Linked DNA regions of Homo sapiens: regions 2, 3, 4, 5 and 6 are each reported to be linked to region 1. Evidence: microRNA targets listed by miRTarBase, many of them from high-throughput screens and not tested one by one. Region 1 holds a microRNA gene; each other region holds the end of a gene's coding sequence.
What was found. The annotated mature microRNA hsa-miR-130b-3p reads CAGUGCAAUGAUGAAAGGGCAU and lies in region 1 at 2,271-2,292, shown strand. An mRNA with a match to its seed (bases 2 to 7 or 8) in the 3' UTR can be bound and repressed. Matches are read on the target gene's strand: a 7mer-m8 pairs with bases 2 to 8, a 7mer-A1 pairs with bases 2 to 7 and ends in A, and an 8mer does both.

Region 2: the mRNA of DTX4 is a reported target of hsa-miR-130b-3p. Seed matches in the 3' UTR shown: 7mer-m8 at 3,663-3,669.
Region 3: the mRNA of SYBU is a reported target of hsa-miR-130b-3p. Seed matches in the 3' UTR shown: 8mer at 992-999 and 7mer-m8 at 1,171-1,177.
Region 4: miRTarBase lists SLC10A3 as a target of hsa-miR-130b-3p. Seed matches in the 3' UTR shown: 7mer-A1 at 912-918.
Region 5: miRTarBase lists RAB5A as a target of hsa-miR-130b-3p. Seed matches in the 3' UTR shown: 7mer-A1 at 2,799-2,805 and 8mer at 2,465-2,472.
Region 6: the mRNA of NUS1 is a reported target of hsa-miR-130b-3p. Seed matches in the 3' UTR shown: 7mer-m8 at 1,903-1,909 and 7mer-m8 at 2,510-2,516.

The regions. Positions count from the first base shown.
Region 1 is chr22:21,651,084-21,655,170 of GRCh38, forward strand. It overlaps MIR130B (microRNA 130b), which reads left to right and starts at 2,221; the gene lies at 2,221-2,302. It overlaps MIR301B (microRNA 301b), which reads left to right and starts at 1,898; the gene lies at 1,898-1,975. It also overlaps the pseudogene LOC107985532. RefSeq lists enhancers at 683-1,353, 1,354-2,025, 1,562-1,611.
Region 2 is chr11:59,204,255-59,208,341 of GRCh38, forward strand. It overlaps DTX4 (deltex E3 ubiquitin ligase 4), which reads left to right. Exons shown (of 9, transcript NM_015177.2): 9 at 422-4,087. The coding sequence ends at 655. Among named protein-coding and RNA genes, the nearest start is that of MPEG1, 6.6 kb to the right of the region's middle.
Region 3 is chr8:109,571,691-109,575,777 of GRCh38, reverse strand. It overlaps SYBU (syntabulin), which reads left to right. Exons shown (of 7, transcript NM_001099754.2): 7 at 1-1,800. The coding sequence ends at 872. Among named protein-coding and RNA genes, the nearest start is that of EBAG9, 34 kb to the right of the region's middle. RefSeq lists an enhancer at 728-957.
Region 4 is chrX:154,484,275-154,488,361 of GRCh38, reverse strand. SLC10A3 (solute carrier family 10 member 3) reads left to right here. Exons shown (of 2, transcript NM_019848.5): 2 at 1-1,051. The coding sequence ends at 855. UBL4A (ubiquitin like 4A) reads left to right here and starts at 1,747. Exons shown (of 4, transcript NM_014235.5): 1 at 1,747-1,825; 2 at 2,029-2,134; 3 at 2,383-2,591; 4 at 2,713-4,087. The coding sequence starts at 1,778. The coding sequence ends at 2,823. RefSeq lists enhancers at 1,144-1,203, 1,541-2,299, 2,300-3,058 and silencers at 1,464-1,723, 2,214-2,363.
Region 5 is chr3:19,983,370-19,987,456 of GRCh38, reverse strand. RAB5A (RAB5A, member RAS oncogene family) reads right to left here. Exons shown (of 6, transcript NM_004162.5): 6 at 2,282-3,749. The coding sequence ends at 3,634. It overlaps PP2D1 (protein phosphatase 2C like domain containing 1), which reads left to right. Exons shown (of 3, transcript NM_001252657.2): 3 at 1,275-2,111. The coding sequence ends at 2,077. Among named protein-coding and RNA genes, the nearest start is that of PP2D1, 27 kb to the left of the region's middle.
Region 6 is chr6:117,706,708-117,710,794 of GRCh38, forward strand. It overlaps NUS1 (NUS1 dehydrodolichyl diphosphate synthase subunit), which reads left to right. Exons shown (of 5, transcript NM_138459.5): 5 at 218-4,020. The coding sequence ends at 308. Among named protein-coding and RNA genes, the nearest start is that of NUS1, 33 kb to the left of the region's middle.

The DNA.
Region 1 (4,087 bases):
TCCCTGGGCAACCAAAGCCCATGCTGTGGGAGCAGATAAGATTGTTCCAGGCAGAATGCAGGACAAGGCCAAAAATAAAAACTGTAGTGGCAGCAGAACTCACTTTCAGTGAACACTTACTAAATGCCAGGTGCTGGGCCAACAATTTACACAGCATCTCATTTGCTGCTGGCAACAGCCAGCCCTATGGGGCAGGTTTGATTGCCATCTCAATTTTGCAAGAAGGCAACAGGGGTTCATAAAGATTCAAAACCACCTCTGCCTGCCTCAAAAACATTTGCTCTCAGCCATTGGACCGATAATAAAGCAGGAGGGGTTGCAGGGGCACAGTTGTCTAAGCACAGCTCCTCCCTTCCCTCTAGGAGCCGTTCAACAGCCCGGTGATCAATATACTTCCTAGTCATCAGCGAAGGGTAGGCGCTTAATGAATGCTTCTCCGCAAAGTGGATCACAATCACGAAGAAACCAAAGCTTACACTTCCGTTCCCCATATCTCCCACAGATCCAAAAGACCACGGGGCCCAGGACCCGGTCTCCATAGCCCAGCCATACCCGGGGGTTTTCAGGAAAGCCTCACTCGCGTCCTGCCGGGCGATCCGGGGTGGTTGAGTTGGGAGGGGGGCTACCCCAGTTTGTAAGCCCACCACGTCCAAATATCCCATCCAGGAGGCGCAGAGAGCAACCTCAGCATGCATAACAAAGCAGCCCGCGGCCGCGTTCACAGCAGGCTTGGCGGGGGTTCGGGAATTTCCACAGGGTCTCGGCCTCCCCCACTGTGGGCTCGCGCCTGGCGCCCCTCACCGGGCTTCCAAGCGCTCTTGTCGGTGTCGCTAGAAAACTCGCAGAGATTGGAGCTGAGAAAAGGCGGGCAAAGTTCCTTTTGATAAGTTATGAATGGGGAAAAAGTGTTTGTAGAACTCATTGTTAAAACCACGGAGCCCGAGACTCGGCCGGCGCCGGGCCAATCGGAACCCGGAGGCTATTTTGAAATCTCTCCCGTCTCAGCCAACAGGCATGCAGGAGGCGAATCCCCGCGCCAGCGCCGGCCAATGAGCGCAGCGCTATGCTAAGGAGTCGGGGGCCCGGCCCCTCCGACTGTCAGCGGGTTAAAGATGGAGCCGGCAGGCGAGGGGCCGCCACGAGGTGCAGGGTCGTCTGGACGGGGACCCGGGGGCAGACGATGGCCGGGATCCTCTTCCGTCTAACCCTCCGCGTCCTGACCGGGCCCTGGGCGGAAGGGATGTCTGCGTGAGTCAGCTGTGTCTGAGGAGGGGATCCTGGGCTGGGCTGGGCGGCCCTACTCGGCGGGTCAGGCGGAGGGGCGCGGCCGGGATCCCGGGGGCCCTCTTTGGAGCAGGGAACTCTAGAAGGGCGGGGAGCCCCCATCCTCTGCTCCACTCTGGGCCTCCAGGCAGAAGAATATGTTAGAAAAGAATCCAGAGTGTATCTAGTGCAGGGCAAGGGGCCAGGGATGGAGTCGTCAGCTAGAAGGGGCGCGTCGTCCCGGGGTGGGGCCGCCCTTTTTCTCCTGGAGCCGCGGGCCGAGTCAGGGCGCAGGGTCGTCGGGCTGTACCCACCCCGCTCCGGGCGCTAGCCGGCTTTGGACTGCGGCTGAGTGCGGGTTCGTCTTTGTGTGTGCGCCCCCTCCCCTGCGTGGCCCGTCAGCTCCTGCTCCGGGATTGGAACAACCCCCTAGTCTGGGGTTTCTCCTCCACCTCAATCCGGAGCGTTCTGGGAAAGGCCTGGGTGTCCTGGGTTCTGAAGACCCCAGGGACGCACCCCGCTGCGGTCTCCTTCCCTGCCCGGATGGACTGGACGGGGGCTCTGCCCCACCCACCCATCCATGGTTGAGCTTCCCGCCCTGCGTGTATTGGGGGTGGTGGGGTCCCCCCTGCTGGCCGCAGGTGCTCTGACGAGGTTGCACTACTGTGCTCTGAGAAGCAGTGCAATGATATTGTCAAAGCATCTGGGACCAGCCTTGGGGATCTCCCTCCCTATAACCCTCACCTCCCACTCCCCAGGCAGGGCCCCTTGGGCTTGCAGGCCCTCCCCTCCCCCCTACCCAATTCGCTCCCTTCTCCATGGAAACTTGAGATTCTAGACAGGCCTGGGCCTCTGGGGTCAGAGGGCACCCTTTCCCCCCGGGCAGAGGCCCCGCCCCAGCCAGCCTGCATTCCAGGTCTCAGATCCCTGCAGACCACCCTGGGGGAGGCACTGGCAGGCCTGCCCGACACTCTTTCCCTGTTGCACTACTATAGGCCGCTGGGAAGCAGTGCAATGATGAAAGGGCATCGGTCAGGTCCAGCCTGCTACCCTGGGAGGGGGAAAGGGAGCTTGCTGCCTCACTCCACTTTCCAGTTGAGAAGGTTGAGGTGCCCAGAGGGTAAGTGTTTCCACTGATTAGGCACAGATGTGAAGCTGGACTGGACCCTCCATCAGAGGATCAGGTGGGTGCAGAGCTGGAGAATCATCCCTAAACTCTCCATCCTGTCATGGCTGGACAGGTGCAGGAGCAGACCTCCCCAGCTTCTGAAAAGCTCTTGTTTGAAGGTCTTTCCACATTGGGTCCCTGGGGTAAGACTGGAACTCCAGGCCTGGTCAGGGTCTTAGGGGAAATACACGCCCAGTCTTTTGCATGGAAGATCATTCTAGGCCTGGCTTGGGCCCAGTCCTTGCTGGAAGCTTGAACAGGGCCAGGCTCTGGAGAGAATGTTCTTCTGGGTGGCAGTTGGGTAAGGGGGTAAGGCAGGCCTTTCAGGAGGCAGCCTTCACCCCAGGACGTCAGCTGGAGTGGTACTATGGACTGACCAGTTGACTGATCAGTTGAGTGGACTCAGCTGGAGTGGTACTATGTGAGATGGATGGGTGGACTTGGGATACAAAGCCTGCAAATGATGTCTACCAACCATGCCAGTTTGTTCTCTTACAGAGAGGTGTGCCCTGAACCTGCAGGAGGGACTGAGGTGTCTAACATTCCAACCGTCCCAGCTGGAATACAGGGTTGGAGCTGAACTTCCAAGGAGCCTGACCCCAGGCATGCTTGGATGACCACCTCTACCATCAAGACCTGACACGGTGCAAAAGGTTTCTACGTGCCCAGTCACAGTCATTCAAATCTTCTTTAGAGGAGGACTAGGTTTCCAGATGGGCTTTTGGGAGTTCCCCTCATCCCTAGCTGGGCGCATTGGGAAACTGCTTTACCCCTACCCTGGGGAGAGAAGCCCTGGCACCCGTGGGAGGAACAGGGGCAATGACACATGCTCCTTGGCTTCCTAGTCCTGATCCCTTGGGGTTCCTTGATCCTAGGGTCATCTGACTTAGATCCATCCTCCCTTCCTCTAGGCACCAGGGGCCATGGCTGGAGGTGGCCACCCCTCAGTCCTGTACAGATTCTGTACCCACTGGCTGGAGACCCCCATGCAGCTGTCTCCTGCTCTTGCTGCGGGGAGACTGAACTCAGGGCTCTGCTCACTGGCTCCCTCCCAATGGAAGCCTTCTCTGGGCTTCACAGCATTGAATATTCCTCCAGAACAGCTTGTTAAATCAAATTTTTTTTTTTTTAGATGGAGTCTTGCTCTGTCGCCCAGGCTGGAGTGCAGTGGCACGATCTTGGCTCACTGCAAACTCCGCCTCCCGGGTTTAAGCGATTCTCCTGCCTCGGCCTCCCGAATAGCTGGGACTACAGGTGCTACCACACCCAGTAATTTTTGTATTTTTAGTAGAAACGGGGATTCACTATGTTGGCCAGGCTAGTCTCGAACTCCTGACCTCATGATCTGCCCTTCTGGGCCTCCCAAAGTGCTGGGATTACAGGCATGAGCCACCGCACCCGGCCTAAATCAAAATGTTCTCCCTGTGGCAGAAGTGTCCATTAGACTGGGAGCCCCTGAGGCAGAGACAACTGTCATTTAAAAAATCTCTGGCCAGGCGCAGTGGCTCATGCCTGTAATCCCAGCACTTTGGGAGGCCGAGGCAGGTGGATCACCTAAGTTCGGGAGTTTGAGACCAGCCTGACCAACATGGAGAAACCCCATCTCTACTAAATATACAAAATTAGGCTGGGCGCAGTGGCTCACGCCTGTAATCC
Region 2 (4,087 bases), not on the chromosome of region 1:
CAGATCATAAGCGCCTTCAACTCCTAGATCCTGTCTTTCAAAATGCAGCCGTTATGTTGGCAGATAACATTTATCAATTAGTGCGTTGTAGGCACTGGTGTGAAAATACTTTTCATGGAGTGTCCAGTAAGATGTTCACAACGTTTAGAGGCAGATTGTACCATTGCCATTTCATAAAAAAATTAATGTTCAGAGAGGTGCTATAACTTCTCCAAGGTCACACAGTTATTCAGTGACAGAGCCAGGACTCAGCCTGTAGCTCCCAAACTCCAAGTCCAAATCTCTTTCTTTCCCCTGGGCTGCTTAGGGTATCATGATGCAGGAAGGGATGGGGCCCTTGGGAGGATTCTCTACCGTCCAAGGGATAGTCTTTGACTGCCAATTAATGTCTGCCTTTCATGTCCCACTTTTATCCCTCTAGGTTCTGAAGCTGCTGCTCGTGGCCTGGGATCGCCGCCTCATTTTTGCCATTGGCACCTCCAGCACCACAGGCGAGTCAGACACCGTCATCTGGAATGAGGTCCACCACAAGACAGAGTTTGGCTCTAATCTCACTGGCCATGGCTACCCAGATGCCAATTACCTGGATAATGTGCTGGCTGAACTGGCTGCCCAGGGCATCTCTGAGGACAGCACTGCCCAGGAGAAGGACTGAGGCCAGAAAAGCTTTGAGGTGGGAGGGGCCATGGAGACTGCAGGACAGGAAGTGAGGAGAGTGAGTCAATGTAGAAGAAGTTGGTGTCCTGCCCTCCCAACTTTCTATCCTCCCCTCCTGCCCTGTGTCCATCCCTCATCCCTCCCAACCACAGTGGGAGCCAGACTGAATATAGCGACATCATTCATAAATCTCATCCAACACAAAGGGAGATGGGATGAGGGCCATCCTGGGTCTGTTCCCATGGAGTTTTTGGTGCTGGGTAGGCAGGAATCCCCTCCCTACCCCACCTCCCAAGTAGGGGCATGGTCAGCACACCTAGGGTATGGGCAGTGCTTAGGCACTCCATATCCTGGCTTTGGGAAGCCGGGGTTTCTTGCCTCAGCCGGCTTCTTGCTACTTCCACTCTGCTTTGAGACTGGAGTTTCTGCTATTCTCCCTCTGCTGGAGGCAGGGAGCTCTCACTGTGCAAGGTTGGGGGGTGGGCAAAGGGGTGAATCACTAAACTGCTGTGACATCAGAAACTGATGCCTTGGTGTAGAGCAAGGAAGCACTTCTTCCCAAGAGGGTCGGAGAAGGAAAAGCCTCTGGGAGCACATTCTGCTGTCATCACAGTCCTTGGCTTCTCTGGGCCCTCCTCTCCTCCTCACAGCTCTCACCTGTCCAAAGAGGCATCTGGTTCTCTCATGTGGATGGATGGACTCTGGGGTTCCTCTTTGGAGTGGCATCCCATGATGCTGTTTCTAGACCCTCTCTGATCAAACCAGAGCCTGCATCCCACTGAGCATCTGAACTGTCCTCAGGGAGAGGAGCCCACAGCCTTCTTCCCAACTCATTCTAGACCAGCTCAAAGATTCCATGAGTTTCATCGAGTCACTGTGAGTGGAGCCCATGCTGGGCTCTGTGCCCTCTGTGTCTGTGCATGCGCGTGTGTGTGTGGGCGTGTGTGCATTGCTGGGCCAGCTTGAAGGGAAGGCCCGTCATGTCCCTGCACTCTGTTTTGCAAGATGCCAAACCCCAGTTCTGATGGGGCTCCAACAGCCAGGCTGTGGTCCTTTGACGTTCCTCACCTGTTGCCAACCTATCCCGTAGTGAACTGAAACCCCAATGAAGACAGAACTGTGCCTGGGGAGATGCAATGAGGTGAGGGCTGAACTCATCCTTTTATATTTCTTTTCAAGATTGGATCAGAGCTCATCTCCATCCAGTCTTGTTTCTATGAAGGCTTCAATCTGTTTCCATGCAAATTTGCTAATCAGAGCCCAGAGCTGCTGGGTCCCTCATCTCCCTCATCTATTATAGATTGACTTACAGCAGGGAGAGAATCTCTTTAGCTCATTCCTAATGGAGTTGGGATCACAATATGGTCTGGTCCAATCTGCATCTTGTTGTGTCCCAAGACCCTATCTCCTCCCCAACATTCTTATTGCCTTTGGCTCCCAGTAAGGAACGAATTGGGGGCCAGGGAGGAGAACAGGGGGGATCAAGAAGGGAAACCCAATTCCCCCTTTGAAAGTGGGTTCTTTGAACTATGTGTTTGGGGGAAGTTCCTCTGGATACTAATTTGAATTTATATACCTCATGTTTTGGGGGTTTGACGTATATATATATATATATATATGCATATATATTTCATAATATTTGGAAGGTTTTTGATGCTAGAAAAATGGAAACAAGAGAACCTTCAAAAATGGTACTTAGATGGGAACTGGAGGCCAATCTTTCATAAAGCCAGCCCCATAGCTGCTTGCTGTTAGGCCTCCAGCCATTTTGACATTGGGGTGGATAGTCGATTCACCTGCCTGTCAGTCGATTCACCTGCCTGTCACCCAGTTCTGTGGATGTGCTGGTGCTGAGCCTTTGCTCTCTTTCCAAATGGTTACAGGGATGTTGATCAGCTCCACCAGAGGGAGCTCTGATGGGAGGAATTGCTCTGCCATCCTTGTCCCTGTGTCTCCTGTCGGCAGGCAGCCATTGTATCTCACCAGCAGACCAGGAGACTGGTCCCAAGGTTACTGCACCACAGGGCAATTTCCTGCCATAGTTAGGAAGGAAACACCTGAACTAAATGGAAGAGACATCCCTGCGGTGTTTAATATCACACCCATGCCCTTTGTCAGGTTACCATGTACAGAGATTACTTGGAGAGCCTCATGCCGTCTCTACCTTCGCACACTGGTCAAGTATCTGCTGAGCTTCTTGGCCGCAAGGATGCAGAAATAGGCTGAGGGTCCATGGGAAGAAAGACACAATGAGGCAGTAGGAGGTGGGGAAGAAAAGAAGACAGACTTTCAAAATGGAATTAGGCACTGGGGAGAGATCAGTTTCCCCACATCAGGGAGAAGAAGGTATAGGTGGGGAAGGGGGTGGCCAGGAGCAGAAGGAAGAAGACTCAAGATGGAAAGGGAGCCGCTGTGCCTGTGGCAATACCACTTGGAGAGGTCGACTTCATACCTTCAAGCCTTTTCCCCTGGGCTTTTGATTGTGTCTGTGCCCCCTTTCTTGTCCTCTCTGCAGATGCCCAGTAGGGGCTACCTCATCCTCGTGCTGTTCTTGTGTGGCTTTCTGGGCAGTAGGGATCTTGAATTTCCTTTCTAACACTGTGCCCGGCAAGGCGGGGAGCATTCCTCTGCCCTTTGTCTTGTGCCAACCTGGAAAGGTGCAGTCTAGATTTCAGTGAGAACCCTGCCAGCTGAGCCCTGTGCATCTACTACCTTGACACAGAGTGTTTTCCCACTAGAAGCTCTGCTCTGCTCTCCTGGCCCAAGTAGGGGATTCCATGCCTTCCCTTTCATGGTCTTAGCACCAGCAGCCTAGTTTCTCCCTTCCAGAGTCTCCAGGGATGACAAATTGGATTGGAGACAAACCTCGTCAGATGCTCATCCCCTAAAAGGTTAATTGTGTATTTGTGGCTGCGTGTGCCTTTGTGTTTTCATTCTCTTCCCATTTTTGTACATTTTGGTCTTCTCTGTGGTTTTATACTTGGTCAAAAGTACTCGTCTTGGTATTGCACTGTTGTGTGCATGAGAAAACTGGGGGAAGGCTCACTGGTACAAGAAAGGACCCCTGACCCCTTTCCTTCTCTGTGGTCCCCGGCATTAGATTGGGGGTTCTGGGAGAGGCAGGTGAATGTCCTAAGTGAATTGTTCTGTTTGTAACTGGAATGTTTTTGAAGTCTTTGGTGTTGCTCCGTGAAAGGACATCGCCACCTGGTGCTCATGAGGTGTCTTTGCAGAACAATAAATGGCAAATGAACAACCACAAAATTGTTACTCTTGTTGGCCTTCTGCTGTTTGTAGATTAGTGCACCTATCTGTGAGGGATTTGGGTTACCTCCCTGAGTCTGTAAGCAACCACAAGCCCTGCCACTGGGTGGGGGAAGTCCCTCCCCAACCACTTAAAAACAAATTTTCCACATATTACCCACCCACA
Region 3 (4,087 bases), not on the chromosome of region 1:
AGAGCATGGAGATGGCACACAGTGGCTCTCTGAGGGACGAACTGTGCCTAGACTTTCCATGTGATTCCCCAGAGAAGAGCTTAACCCTCAACCCCCCTCTTGACACAATGGCAGATGGGTTATCTCTGGAAGAGCAGGTCACGGGGGAAGGGGCTGACAGGGAGCTACTGGTAGGAGATAGCATAGCCAACAGCACAGATTTGTTCGATGAGATAGTGACAGCCACCACCACAGAATCTGGTGACCTGGAGCTTGTGCATTCCACCCCTGGGGCTAACGTCCTGGAGCTGCTGCCCATAGTCATGGGTCAGGAGGAGGGCAGTGTGGTGGTGGAGCGAGCCGTTCAGACCGACGTGGTGCCCTACAGCCCAGCCATCTCAGAGCTCATTCAGAGTGTGCTGCAGAAGCTCCAGGACCCCTGTCCCTCGAGCTTGGCGTCCCCTGATGAGTCTGAACCAGACTCGATGGAGAGCTTCCCAGAGTCCCTCTCTGCCTTAGTGGTTGATTTAACTCCAAGAAATCCAAACTCAGCCATCCTTTTGTCTCCCGTGGAGACCCCCTACGCCAATGTGGATGCAGAAGTTCATGCAAACCGCCTCATGAGAGAGCTGGATTTTGCAGCCTGCGTGGAAGAGAGGTTGGATGGTGTCATCCCACTGGCTCGCGGGGGCGTCGTGAGGCAGTACTGGAGCAGCAGCTTCCTGGTGGATCTCCTGGCTGTGGCTGCCCCCGTGGTCCCCACGGTTCTGTGGGCATTCAGTACTCAGAGAGGGGGAACGGATCCTGTGTATAACATCGGGGCCTTGCTCAGGGGCTGTTGCGTGGTTGCCCTGCATTCGCTCCGCCGCACCGCCTTCCGTATCAAAACCTAAATAGAAGTTGTTGTTACCGTGTGCCAATGTGTCCCATGTGGGTTGTGCCAGGTAGAGAAACAGGAAGTCAATCATCTGTGACAGTCTCTATTCTGTCGTTTTGCTCCTTGGTATTTGATTTGCACTATATTTAGTTGAAGCCTGTTCACTGTTTAAAACCGGAGGTATCTTCAAAGGCATGGAGACCTGGTTCCAGTAAATGTCCCACCAGTGGGGTATAGAAAGCATGCTCATGACCCTGCCGTGTCGTCTGAGGTACCCGTTCTTATCCTAGTGGTTCAGGAAGAGAAAACGCAGTTTGCACTTTCAAGACAGCTTCTCTAAGGCTGGCATGTTATCTCCTTGCTTTGCTTTTTGCCGTTTTAAAATGTGTAATTGTTCCAGCATTCCAATGGTCTTGTGCATAGCAGGGGACTGTAACCAAAAATAAACATGTATTTGTGTAATTGGTTTGAAGAAGTCTTGAATAGCTCTTTACTGTCTTACTTGGGGTTGATAAGATTTGAGTGTTTGCAATTTTTTACTAAATGTAGCTCCAAAGTCTTAAATGGCTTGTTTGTTCTTAAACTGTTAATTGATGAAACTGTGCATAAGTTTACAATGTACTAACTTATTTTGCTTATTATATATAGTGTTTTATTGGAAATTGTAACCACACACTTCAGCATGATGAAAATAAAGATTAGTGTTTCCATTTAAATAAATGTTTTATCCTCCCATAAAATAATAATTATTTCTGTGATTTTACTTCTATGTATAAGAAAGACAATGAATAGCAGATCTTACATCTTTATCAATAGGGGGTCTGTAAAAATTGAATTAAATTAGGAAGAGGGAAAAAGAGTTAGTTATTAAAGAAAATGAAGATTTCCTACCCTTACTTAAAAAGCATCATTTCTGAATAAAAGTAGATTTGTTTACTTTTAAATTGCCCATACACTATTTTGTCCATATGTTTATGCAGTAAGTACATCTTGAGTGTTTTCAGGAACATTGGGTTGATCTAAGCATGCTAGGTGTTCAGGAGAGGGAGAATATGGTAGTGCCATATAGCTTCCTTCCCCAGAATGATAGGATGAGGGTGGGTGGCTGGGAAGGGATGAGAAGGTATTTGATCTATGTTCATCTAGTGCTTACACCAAAATTTTGAGATTAGTATTTTACACATATCTTTGAGGGAACTAAGCCTCAAAGAGGAAAAATGTTCAGGATCTCAGAGCTCATCTCCAGAAGCCACGATTTCAAGTGTTTGCAAAAGCAAATGCCTTTTCTACTTTGCCACACAAAGGGAGGATAAAGAGGCTGGATAATACCCCAAGTTCTCATCCAGAAACTCTTCTTCCATAGCACTTAACACCTTTAAATATACCACCCTTTTACTTACAATGCCTTGGTTATTACCCATCTTTCCCACTGAGATATTAGCTCCATGAGGGCAGGGATCTTTGTTCTGTTTTGTTCACAGCTGTATGTCAAGAACCTAGAACAAATGAAAGAATAAGACTTAGAATTTGATAGCACAACAGGGAACCTATAATCAATAATAATTTAATTGCATATATTAAAATAATTAAAATAATATAATTGGATCGTTTCAACACAAAGGATGCTTGAGGGGATGGATACCCCATCTTCCATGATGTGACTATTGCATACACATTGCATGCCTGTACCAAAATAGCTCATGAGCCCTATATAGACACCTACTGGGTACCCACAAAATATTTTTAAAATATTTTAATTTTCTACAAATAAATTAAAATTTAACAATAACTTAGTACAGCACCTGGCACATAGTGGGAAGTCTAAAAATTGCTGTTGAATGAATTAATTAATCCAGCAAATATTTACCAGGTACTCCGATGCTAACTGGGCACTTTCCAGGATGGGTCTTAAAAAGTGAAGGAGACAGAAAAGGTTTCTGTCCTCAGGAAGCTTATGTTCTGTGTCTGTGAGGGACACAACATGCCATCAAATAAACAAAAGATGGTTTCAGATAGTGGTAAATGCCTCAAAGGAAATAAGGTATTTTGACCAAGTGTGGCAGAGGTGAAAGTAAGGAACACATCTCTGAAGAAATAACATTGGTGGGAATGGATGAAAAAGAGTCAATCATGCAAAAATATGGGACAAAATCTTGTTGCAAGAGGAACAAATGCAAAGGCCGTCAGACAGAAAGGACTCAGAGTGTGACAGGAGCATCCTGGAGGTCAGTGTGGCTGGAGCAGAGTGAGAAGGAAGGAGAAAGTTGGAGTAGACAAGAAGCTGCTTCATATGGGGCCACACAAACCATGGTAGAGGTTTCAGTTTATTCAAGAACGCCATTTAGGGGTCTATTGTAATGTCCAGATGAGAGATGATGCCAATTTGGAGGTGGAAGTAGATACAGAGTTTAAGTTGAAAAATTACAGATATAGCTTGAAGATAGAACTAATGTGATTTGCTGATGGATTAAATGTGGAGTAAGGAAAAGAAAAAAAATAAGGGTGACTCAGGTTTTTGGCTTGAGCAATTGGATCAATGGCGGCCATATTTGCTCAGAATGGGAAGAGTTCAAGAGAAACAAGTTTGGGAAAAATAAAACTGAGATGTCTATTAAAACATCTATGTGAAGATATCAAGAGTAACTGCATATATAAATGTGAAAATCAAGGGAGCTGTCAGGACTAGACTTATAACATTGAACCTTTCTGGCATTTGTGTGGTAATTAAAACCATGGGAACAAGTGAGGTCATCCAGGAAGAGTGTAGAGAAGGAAAAAAGGTCAAAAATGGATTTCTGAGGTACTTCTATATTTAGATAGAGGTGGAGGATGAAGAACCAACAAAACAGCCAGAGAAATGACAGCCCAAAATGTAGGAGCAAAACTAGGTGATTAGTAGTATAAAAACCAAGAGAAGAGAGTAATTCAAGAAGAATGGAGCAGTCAATTGTGTTGAAGTCCCACCAAGAGATTAATATGAGAATAGTTACATATTCACCGGCTTTGACAGCAAGGTCTTAATGACTGTGTCAACATCATTCCTTGGAGAAATGGGGATGGGAGGCCAATTGGAGCAGGTTGAAGAGTGAATGGAAGCGAGAAAGTGAAATATGTGCTGCTGAATTTTTTTGTTTTATTAAGTTTTACAATTAAGGAGAATAGGAAATTGAGTGGTAGTTAAAAGGAGACATAAGGTCAAAGGTTAATTTTTCAATATTGAGAAGAGACAGA
Region 4 (4,087 bases), not on the chromosome of region 1:
TACCTGCTCCTGCCTCTTATCTTTGTCAACAAGTGTTCGTTTGGGTGCAAAGTGGAACTCGAGGTTCTGAAGGGGCTCATGCAGAGCCCCCAGCCCATGCTGCTGGGCCTCCTGGGCCAGTTTCTGGTCATGCCCTTGTACGCTTTCCTCATGGCCAAGGTCTTCATGCTGCCCAAGGCCCTGGCTCTGGGCCTCATCATCACCTGCTCGTCGCCTGGCGGCGGGGGGAGCTACCTCTTCAGCCTCCTTCTTGGAGGGGACGTCACCCTGGCCATCTCCATGACTTTCCTCTCTACGGTGGCTGCCACTGGCTTCTTGCCTCTGTCTTCGGCCATCTACAGCCGCCTGCTCAGCATCCATGAGACGCTCCACGTGCCCATCTCCAAGATCCTGGGGACCCTGCTGTTCATTGCCATCCCCATAGCCGTGGGCGTGCTGATCAAGTCCAAGCTCCCCAAGTTCTCCCAGCTGCTGCTGCAGGTCGTCAAGCCCTTCAGCTTTGTGCTCCTCCTGGGCGGCCTCTTCCTGGCCTATCGCATGGGGGTCTTCATCCTGGCAGGCATCCGGCTACCCATCGTACTGGTGGGTATCACGGTGCCCCTGGTTGGCCTGTTGGTGGGCTACTGCCTAGCCACGTGTCTGAAGCTGCCAGTGGCCCAGCGGCGGACGGTCAGCATTGAGGTAGGGGTGCAGAACAGCCTGCTGGCCTTGGCCATGCTGCAGCTATCCCTCCGCCGCCTTCAAGCTGACTATGCCTCCCAGGCCCCCTTCATTGTGGCGCTGAGCGGCACCTCCGAGATGCTGGCCTTGGTCATTGGCCACTTCATCTACAGCAGCCTGTTCCCAGTTCCCTGAGGCCTCTGGGTCAAGCTTTCATCAGCCCCAGCCCCCACACTCCACCAAAGTTCTCATGCACTATGCACTCAGAAAAATCCAGGCTTATTTTTTTTACTGATTTTTTATTCTCCAGCTTTCAGTGCCAAAGAGGCCATGCTGAGTTAGGTAGGTGGGCGCTGCCCAGAAAATATATTTCAATAAAAGAGAGAAGCAAGCTTGGGTCCCTTCTACTCTTTGCCCTTTGGGGCCTGGGCGTGGGGGTAGAAAGAGTGTGCTGGGTAAGTGTGGACCAGGGTGGAGGGCCAGCTTGGGTGACACGGTGACCCCTGCATAGGCTTTCCCTATCAGCCCTCCCCGGGGGTGTCCCCACTCTGGGAGAGGTGGGAGGATGAGGGCAGAGGCGTAGCCCCCCTGCCCCCTCTCAAGCTCAGTGGAGCGTTTCGCAGCCAGACCAGAAAGGAGGAGGTAGGAAGCCACCAGACAGGGAGCGGGGGCGGGCCGTCTGTGGGTATGCAGGGCCAGGCGCCGCCAGCAGTCCTGGCGCGTGAGGTGGGCCAGGCAGTCCGCGGGGGCGAGCGTACCTTCTGGCCCTCCCTTCTCCATGTCCCAGCTCCCAGATGACGCCAACCTGGCCCGACTGGTTCCTGCTCCCAACTCCCCCGCGTCGTTGCTTTGGGAGGGGTCCGCCGGCCAGGGCGGTCGATGCGCGCATGCTAGGCGGGACCCCGGGGGGACTCCTCCCGGGGCGCAATTGGGCCGGGGGGCGGGGCCGGGGCGCGGACGGGGCAGGAGGGCGGGGCCGGGAAGCGCGGGCGGCGGGCGCGCCCCTCTCGCTGCTTCCGGCGGCGGCGGGCGGTTCCAGCGCGCGCCCGGGGCGGCGGCGCGCGGCGGGGGGTGGTTGGGGTGCGCGCCGGCCCGAGTGGACGCCGTCGCGACCGCCATGCAGCTGACGGTGAAGGCGCTGCAGGGCCGCGAGTGCAGCCTGCAGGTAGGGTCCCCGGGCCGGGCCGCCGGGTCCGGCGCGCTCTCTCGCCCGCTCCTGGCAGGGGGACCGGCAGGGCCGAGGGCGGGCACGGGGCGGCCGGGCCGAGGGCCGGGAGCCGGGAGAGCTGCCCTCGGGGGCGGACGCGTGGGCTTCGCCGTCTGGGGGCCGCGGGCTCAACCCTTGCCTCCCACCCTCCGCGCGGCCAGGTGCCAGAGGACGAGCTGGTGTCCACGCTGAAGCAGCTGGTCTCCGAGAAGCTGAACGTCCCAGTGCGCCAGCAGCGGCTGCTGTTCAAGGGCAAGGCCCTGGCAGGTACCCAGGGAGAGGAGACGCCCGGGGAGCCCCGCAGGAAGCGGGACCGGGGTGCGCGGGCCGAGGCCAGCAGCCGTGTGTCGGGTCGGGGTGCGGGCGCCAAGCGCCACATGACCCCAAGGGAGGCGGCCGCATGCCTCACAGCCGGATGCCGCAGCGCTCCGCTCCCGCCGCCCGAGGCGGCCTCGCGCCCCGGGCCACCCCCACGGCGGTGGAGGAGGAGGAACCCATCGATCTGTCTTTGGCAGATGGGAAACGACTCTCGGATTATAGCATCGGGCCCAACTCCAAGCTCAACCTAGTGGTCAAACCCCTGGAGAAGGTGCTACTAGAAGAAGGCGAGGCCCAGAGGCTGGCCGACTCCCCACCCCCGCAGGTCTGGCAGCTGATCTCCAAAGTCTTGGCCCGCCACTTCAGTGCGGCAGATGCCAGCAGGGTCCTGGAACAGCTACAGAGGGTGAGAAGGGTAACCCTGGGCATCCTCTTCAGGCCCAGTTGCTCCCAGCCCCTACCTCTGTTGCAGTGTATGCCCCCCCACCACTGGCAGCCCCTGAATCTTCCTGCCCTTCTCTCCCCAGGATTACGAGAGGTCCCTGAGTCGCCTGACGCTGGACGACATCGAACGGTTGGCCAGCCGCTTCCTGCACCCTGAAGTGACTGAGACAATGGAGAAGGGCTTCTCCAAATAGAATTCTCGGAGCATGGGGAGGTGCCCAACGCCAGGCTACCGCTGCATGTCGCACTAAGTGTGTTCTCCTGTTGCAGTTGGGCTCATCATCATCATAGCTGGCATGTACCTGGCTCTGGCCAGGTGCTAGGCACTCCTCACAGCTTGACCTGGGTTTGCTTCCACACCCTCAGAAGAGGAGAGCCGGCACAGCAGAGGCACCGGCGATGAAGTGGCACAGCCCCAGTCGGAATCCAGCGGCTTCTGAAAGTGCCTTGGTGTGAGAAGGAGGAAGGGGCCGCTTGGAGAGCTGGGCTCTCGCATGTCATGTTTAGCCCACTGAGAATATACCCTCAGGTGACTCCCTCCCGATCCTGAAAGGGAAAGCAGCTGTCACCTGACTTCTGGCGGGTCCAACATAGCCCTCAGCTTACCTCTGCAGGAGGCCAAGTGACAGCCAGCCCTGGAACCCCCCGACCCCCGCAGCTGCTGCAGCCAGTGTGCCAGTGTGCGTTCGACAAATGGAAAAGCAGATTGGGGCCAGGGAGTCAGCAAGGCACCCCAGCTCTGTGATGTGACTTTGGGCGAGTCTCAGTGCCACTTGGTCCCCAGCCATGGACTCTATACAGTGAGGGCCACTCACCGACCTGAGTCAGTGTCCTCTGTCTCACAGGGCCCCTCTCCCTTCTGTTCAGTAAACAAACTGAAGCCAAAAATGAAGCCGTGGCCAAGTGTGACCCAGAGATGGGGTGTCCTGGCCCTTAGTGACACAGCTCCTCTCTGGGGCACCCTATCTGCTTGTCTCGTCCAGGAAGCGTTAGGGCTGATGGGTGACTCAGCAAGGCAGTGTCAGAGCTGGGACTGGGCGTAGGCCTTTGTCCTCATCCCCAGCACTGGCCTCCCTGTGGAAGATGAACATATCCCAGCCACCTGTGTACAGGGGCTCACTTTGTGTGCTCCTTGTTGCCTGAGAAGAAACCTTGGGGTGCCAGGGTGGGGGCAGAAGCATGGACTGGGTTCCGGTTCATCCTCCTCCACCCTGCCGTGTGTGTGGGCACAAGAGGACATCTAACCACCTGCTCCTTGGAGGAGGCCCCCAGGGGTGGTAGAGGCTGGAAGGAAGCCACATCAGGAGGACGCCACTCCGGCCCTTCACCCTTGCCAAGTGAGCTGCTCACAGTGTGGTCAGGGCTGCGCGTGCTGGAGGCCCTCCTGCCTGGGCCTTGTGGGGCAAATATTGGGTCCCCAGGCTGGAAAGATGGACAGAGGCCCAATGGGTGAAGGCT
Region 5 (4,087 bases), not on the chromosome of region 1:
ATTCAAATATCATTAACCCCATCTCAGAAGTTTAATAACTTTCTATAAATCATAAATGATTTAATATCAAGAAAAACAATATGTAATTATATGTAATTTAAAAAATACGTAATTATATTCCTAAAAACTTGGGGAAAATCAATTTTTCCTAACAAACTAAAAAAATTCAGTGGTTCTTAAAAAATACACCAAAAAAAGTTACAGTAATATATAACCACCCTGCAATCTGTTCAGATCATGTTTAAACTGTAAGATTTCAATGAAGCACACCATCACAGATTCATTTGAACCACGGACAAACTACAATCAACTTTTAAGATTTCAGTTTCCAACCAAAGGGTTTAATGTTGGCTGCCTATTATTCATGTAATACATTAACAACATATTTCTCCACAGGAATGATTTTTTTTTTTTTTTTTGAGGCAGATTTTTGCTCTTGTTGCCCAGGCTGGAGTGCAATGGCATCATCTCAGCTCACCACAACCTCCACCTCCCGGGTTCAAGCAATTCTCCTGCCTCAGCCTCCCAAGTAGCTGAGATTACAGGAACATGGCCACCACGTCCGGCTAATTTTTTGTATTTTTAGTAGAGATGGGGTTTCTCCATGTTGGTCAGGCTGGTCTCGAACGCCTGACCTCAGGTGATCCGCCCACCTCGGCCTCCCAAAGTGCTGGGATTAAAGGCTTGAGCCACCACACCTGGCGGATTGACTTAAATTTTAGAATCTACACATTATAGCAACCTAGTTAAGACTAACATTAATAGTGACATTCTAATTTTTTCATCACCCATGACCTAAGTATATTCAAGTTTTAACTTGTACTGGTTACACAACTGTCATTCTTTTTAAAAAATCAAAGTTTGTGTTTTAAATTGAAAAAGCATTTATCTTAAAAACATTTAAAAATCTCCTAGATGGAATATATGTTGGCTATAAAAAAGTTCAACTCATGACTCTGCAATGTGAGTAATATTAAGTCATTTCATTTCAAAATTTAGAAGTTACTTTGCATTATCTGTAATGTTAATACTAAATGTAATAGTTTTAAACACTAAAAGCTGCTTAACAATGAGGGATAAATTGACCTGTTTGAAATCTGTATTTACTGTAAATCATTCAGTAGTGATATATTACACATATTTAAACGTACTTTTACATAGCCTGCTTTCTGTTTAGCATTGAAACACAGAATTTACTAAAGTTAGCAGTAGATTTTGATACAATTGGTTATCTCTAGGATAAAAATTTCTTCTTTTAAAAAATAATCTTTTAGGTAATGTGCAAGCAGTCTTATGCAGAAATGGGAAAGGTTTTTGCCTAACCAAAGAACATACTACACGAAACACAAATGAAAGAAGAAGAATACTTCAGAATGGAGCAGTCATTAGTTCAAATGAACCATACGGGCTTGTAGAGGGGCAAGTAAAAACTACACGAGGACTTGGATTTCATGGAAATCTCAAGCTGAAAAAATCCATTATCCCAGCACCTCAAACTATTTCTGTCCCTATAGATGACCTATGTCAATTCCTTATTGTAGCTACTAATGGACTTTGGGAAGTTTTGGATAAAGAGGAAGTTACTGCCCTGGCAATGACAACATTTCACATGTATAAAGAAACATACTGTCCTATCATACCTAACAAATCACCATCCAAAGGGCCTCTGCTTTTTTCAACCAGTGAACCAAACCTTACTAAATCACAGAGTAATATCCACGTATTGTTTCAGTATAAATCTGTATCTGAAGTACGTGTGTCAACTACAAATTCCAAAGAAAATTTATCCGATTCAAACTATTCTAAATACTGTATTTATAACCCTGAGAATGTAGAAACATTTCCAGCAGAAACGACTCATCGTAAACCTTGCAGTGAAAAAGTAACTGACAGACCAACTAGTGTAAATGATGTGGCAACAAATGAAAAAGAATCAGACACTAAGAGTTTCTATGAAGGCGCAGCTGAGTATGTTAGCCATGAACTTGTAAATGCTGCTTTACTGGCTGGCTCCAGAGACAACATTACAGTTATGGTAATATTTCTCAATGGAAGTGAATATCAGCTTCTGACATAAAAAAATAAAGTTCCAATTATCCAGAGCACCAAAATATAAAGTGATTCTTCAATGATCCAGCTATTAGGATGATTCATCAATACCATGCAAATAATTTTATGAACATAGTAAAGAAAATATAAAAGCGGATACTAGGTCATATAGTATCATTTATATATATTCACTGTTTTATGCCAAAAAAAAGGAAAAGAGAAAAGCCGATACTTGCTTTTTATACCACTTTATTCCAACCTGAGCACCTCAATATAAAACTAAACACTGGTGAACCGTTTTCCTAATTCTGCATTATCATAAATGTACAAGTTCTCCTAGCAGTCCAACACTTAAATAGATTAAATCATCTCTGACACATGGTAGCTTTCATATAATGAAAATACCTAAAATAATTAGTGCAATATACTGAACTGATCAAAATAAAATGAACTTTGGAAAGGAAGGCTGCAAGATTGTTACTAACATATTGCAATACTTTATGTTACAAATTACGGGTACATTGTTTATTATGGTTCTAGCCATGGAGGAACAACTGAAGCCCCTTCCTGTCAAAGGGGGAGAGAGAAATAATTAGCTGTTTTAGTAACAGTACATTTTGTATGCTTTTAAGCAACTCTTAAATATTACAGAAAAGTAATACAGATATGGAGACTACAATGCAGTACCCTATTTACAGTACAGCTGAAGATCGAATTTAAAATAATCAAGTTTGAATATACATAATTGTTAGTGCATTGACTATATTATGTCAAAAGGGAACAAAAGCCCCCTCCCCACCCCAAACAACAAAACCTGTGTAATGGCCAGCGGTGATTAATTAGAAATCACAGACACCTGGTTTATTTCATTTTTGTTAAAGAACTCACATGTTTGAAAGGAACACTGACCATTAAGGTGCATTTATTAGTTCTCAAAATTCCTAAAACAAGATGGGGTTGCATTTGATTTTTACCCCATTTAAAAAAAAAAAACCAGACTGGGTATAATTAAGATACCATTAATACTCTTCCCCACCCCTGACCTTGTATATGTGGGATTATTTTCTTGTGGTTAATTTATTAAAATGTGGAATGTACATTTTAAATACAGGTACCAGGAGAAATGAACATTTGCCTGAATACTATGGCTAAGCATCATAAATAACTTTAGAATCTCCTTCTAAACAAAGAATGTTTTTGAAAAGCCCAAATTAGTAAGTTCCAATTTTTTTTTCACAGGTGACTACTGTACCAGTGTGGAGAAATGGGCTGGTTAACTGTGTGGGCCCAGACAGTCATTTGTCTATATTCCTAGTGATGAGAAATTATTCCCCCTAACCTTCCAATGAAACAAGTGTCCACATAGTTCTCATTTTTCCCTATTGTTGAAACATTAGTGAGAGGGACCCATGCATGTTATTAAAAATTAAGTTCAAAACACTTAAAATAATTCTGTATTAGAAACTTGACTCTATCATAAGTCTCTTCTTTTGGAAGTCATACTGGGCTGGTTAAATGCTCCAATTCCATTGTTATTAACATTTAGGAAGCAGAAGACTATTCCAGCTAGTTCAAACTAGAGGTTTAGTTACTACAACACTGATTCCTGGTTGGTTGTGTGGGTTCGGTAAGGTCTACTCCTCTTCCTCTGGCAGAATTTGCTCCTGGATTTTGTGGTTCATTCTTTGGCAATTTTTTAGCTGAAAGAAAATGATCAAATAAATAGAATATTTGAATACTCATATTAATATCAGTTTCACCTGCTTATCTATAATTTTTCTTTCCAGTTAGGTTACCCCCAAAGTATCATATAACCATATGTTCATTCTTTTCAAATGTTTACTGAGTATTGAATGCCAAAATATTGGTTGCTGTCTTAGGGAGTTTGATTTCTGGGGTAATTGTGTTGGGGGAACGGTAGATGGGGACTGGTTGTAGATACAATTAAAACTTAAGCCTAACTAGTGCTTTATGTAATTCTCTATACCGATTCACTCAATAATACCAGAAAAGTTCTATTTTATTTTATACTCATTAT
Region 6 (4,087 bases), not on the chromosome of region 1:
AGGCTCTCTGCTATTTCCCAGTCAGTTCTGTCAGGGCCCCACCCTTTCAGTCTACATATTATGATTAAGACATTTTCCGTGCCTGTCATGGTGCTGTCTGGTGGAGGATAATTTGGTGTATTCTATTCTTAACTTCTTTTTGGTCCTTATCTTCTGGTTCCCCCCTACATTACAGTGTATATCTAATTGCTTTTCTCCCCCCGTGTTTTCTTTTCAGCTCTTTGCCTTCCCACCTAAACATCAGTTATGAGGACTTTTTCTCTGCCCTTCGTCAATATGCAGCCTGTGAACAGCGTCTGGGAAAGTAGTGGTCATTGGTTGCATAATTTGATTTGAGGCTTGTGGAGGAAAGGAACCAAGTGACTCTGATGTTTACAAAGCACCTATGAAACCCTGTACACACCTAGTTCATAATCCTCATAATTTATCAACAAACACAAAAAAGTGTCTTACTTGAGAGTGAGTGTGTGTGTGTGCGTGTGCACGTGCACACATGTGCACGTTTGTATGTATGGAAATAAACTTATAAATGGGGACGTATTGGAGAAGGAAATACATAGACCTACAACTTTGAGCAAATAGCAGTGATGTTTTAGGAACTGAAATGTCACACTTAAAGTCTTCAGCCCAGCTACTTCCCTATTTTTGTGGGGAGAAGAGGGCCTGATTAGAACTGTTCTGGTTGTGTTTGGCGGGAGGGGAATAATTTTTGTTCAGTCCTTCTTAGTGACCAAACTTTAATTTTTAAGAATAATATATTGACTTACTGAACTGAAGCATTCTGAGTTGAAAGGAGCTCCAGAGGAGTGGAGTTCTGTGTTGCTCACATGTTAAAATCTTGCTCACCTTCAGAGCAGAGGGAATACCTATCTTCAGATATCCGTCCATTTTCATCTCTTAATTGTAGTCAAAAGTATGACTTGAGAGTGTTGCTCTGGTATTCTGGGTTCTGAAGTCTGGTATTCTGGTATTCTGGGTTCAAAAGTATGACTTGAGAGTGTTGCTCTGGTATTCTGAGAGTTGCTCTGTATTCTGGGTTCTGAAGATTATTTGAAAAATAACTCCTACTACATTGAAATGCAGACTTAAAAATTTAAACATTGGATTAGGCAGTCAAAAAAACCAAGCAAGCATAAAAGGTCAATAAGTTGTAATCTTGATAGTAAAGGTGGAAAACTTATTATAAATGGAAAGAAAGTTTTATTTCCTTTTTTGTTTGATGGGCAGTATGCCATATTATACCCAAAGTTCTTTTAAAAAATATTTCCATCAACCATTTTTATTTAAAATAAACATTTGAGGGAAGTTACCAAGGCAGCTTTTTTCCTCAAAAGTAACCTGTTCCTCTTTGGAATAGCACATTTTAGGGGCATGGTTAATACCTGAGATTTTTACTCAGTAAATCCTGATGGTTACTGTGTGTAAAATATCTTTAAGTAGGATTGAAGGCCTCTGTGGGGGAATAAAATATTACCAAAGTCTATAAAAATAAATTTTACATGTTCTCTTTTATGACAGAGAGCAGCACTGGTTCTGTTATTTTTAAAATGAATAATTGATTTCTTGATAGGTGTTTAATATTTCTTCCCTCACTGCTGATTCTTAGATAGAAACCATTCTTTATATTTGATAGACTGCTTTCAGAAAACCCTTATCAACAAGTGTACAATACTTATCTAAAACTATACATTTAGAATGGAGCAGTTTAATACTAGATCTCAGAAGTTTTGAAAAATAGCAAAGAAGACTGGATTTGGAAAGCATGGTCTACAATTGGTTGTTAAATTCTGAAGCTATGAAGAATAAATGTTTCAACTTTGGATTATGAAACCCCATTTATGATTTTTTAAATACACTTGAAATAAAAATGATTAAACTAAATTTTGGTCCAGTGACATTACTTTGCACTGCATAATCCATTATACGTTGTACGACTTTTTTTTTTTGTTTTAATTTATTACTGAGAGTTTTGTGTGAAGCTACAGCATATCTAACCAGAGAATTTCTGATTCCTTATACTGTGATTATATTATATTGAGGCATTTGTAGTGCAGCTGAAGACTGAATTTATGCCTTTTGTAAACATGATAGGTATAAATGTCTTATAAACATTCTGGAGTATGTATAGCTTTAATGAATGAAATTTAATGGACCTGATTAAAATGAAGGGATTTAATCGTTGTTAAAGTTAAGTTAGTCAAATAAATTACCTACTGGAATATAGCCCAAGCCAGTAAAGGTTTAATATTTGCATTTTCGTGCTTTTATTTTCTCCTTCCATTCATAAGTATATACTTGAAAGTACATCTGTAGCCTATGATTTGAGTCTCTTGAAGTTCTAGGAAGAGGCAAACTACAAACTACTAGGATTCTGATTTCAGATGTAGTCATTCCAGAACCTTCTCTTTATGAGTTCACCTGCTAGTACAATCTCCACAACTTGAATGGCATTGGTTGTTCTGTAATTCCTGCCAAAAGCATCACAAGTTGTACATCATCAAGGCTCCCTTTGCACTCCCAAGAAGAACTGGTAATTTTAAACAAAAGTATGTGTCTTTATTTGTATTGGAAAATACTGTCTTTAAATTGTTTCTTGTTGACACTCCCCACAATGGAAAAATTACCGAATTAAACCTGTTTTATGGATGGCAGCTTGGAGCATAGCAAGAAGTTGGAGGATTTGAATTCCATTCCCAGTTCTCATTGTGTTTTGTTTCTTAAAACTATAATAATCGGTTACTGTTATAAAGTTTAAAAGGTGGTTTTAATGTGAATAGCAAATTCTGGTATATCGTGACTAACGCTTAAGAATGCCTGTCTTTGAGAGGAAGGTGTTATAATATTAATGAACAGTGCCAAATACACTGTGCATATCTGCAATTTAATCTTTGAATGTATGTTACTGGATTAGCTCCCTCCTCCTGTGTGATGGTACCATGCATAGAGTCAATCAAATCCTTGTGATGTTTTGTATGGACTTTGACAATATGTAAATAATGTGTAAAGCCAGTTTTTATGATTAAGGAATCAAATTTATTGAATTTTATTATTGAAAGTTGAAACTTAACATGTATGAACAAAAACCAATAAAAGAATATACTCTTTTCATTGACTATAGTATTATGTGAATGCTACATTTGTTCTGAACACTTAGGGGCTGCAAAAATGTAATAAGAAATGCATATGACTAGATAGCAATAGTGTTTTTTTTAGATGGTATGCTCTTGATTGAAATATATTCTCACTTTTACCAGGTTAAACATTTGGAATCTTATAATGTTACTTGCTTTTTGATAGATAATAGTGAAATAAATTCAGCTTTGCCATTGCTGGAGTTGTCAAAATTCCACAGTAATTAAAATTTGAATTTTTACCGAATATGAAATTTCCAAATTAAAAACGTATATGTGTACTCTTTTAAAAAGGAATTTGATAGTTCTTGTCAAATGAGAAAATTTAAAGGTAAGAGTTATGGTTTGTCTTATGCTGCATAGACTATTCACCTCCTAACTTGAAGGTCTAATCATAAGACAATTGTTTTTTTGTGCATAGTTTTCATCTAAAATTAAGTTTACCAAAGGCAAATAACTGCTTACTAGGAACTTCCTTTAGCAAAAATTACTATAAAGTTCAGGACAGTTTGAAATAAAACCCAGGAAACAAGATTAATGTGAGCAGTTCTCCAAGATCCTAACTGGTGGGACATAAACTATGATGCAATGGATAGGAAAAGGTAGTGCAAAAAGAATTTCTTAAGGTTTAAAAAATACACTTTTCATTATAGGAAAAAGAAGATTCAGAGAAACAAAGGAATGTAACCTTATTGATTACATTTTTGGTGATCACCGAGAATTTTTTGTACTATATTTTAAAAAATGTATTCTACTGTAACAAGTTAATAAAGAGATTTTTTAAAAAACTATAAACTAGAAATTGAGAGTCTTGCATTCTCTTTTGTATTTGATTATTGTGTCTGGATATAAATTACAATAGCACATGAAAATAAAATGTTTTAAAAAATTATAGTCCACATTCAGTTATTCTTAATATTTAATGTTGGCCCAAATTCTTCAAATAATTTTATGCT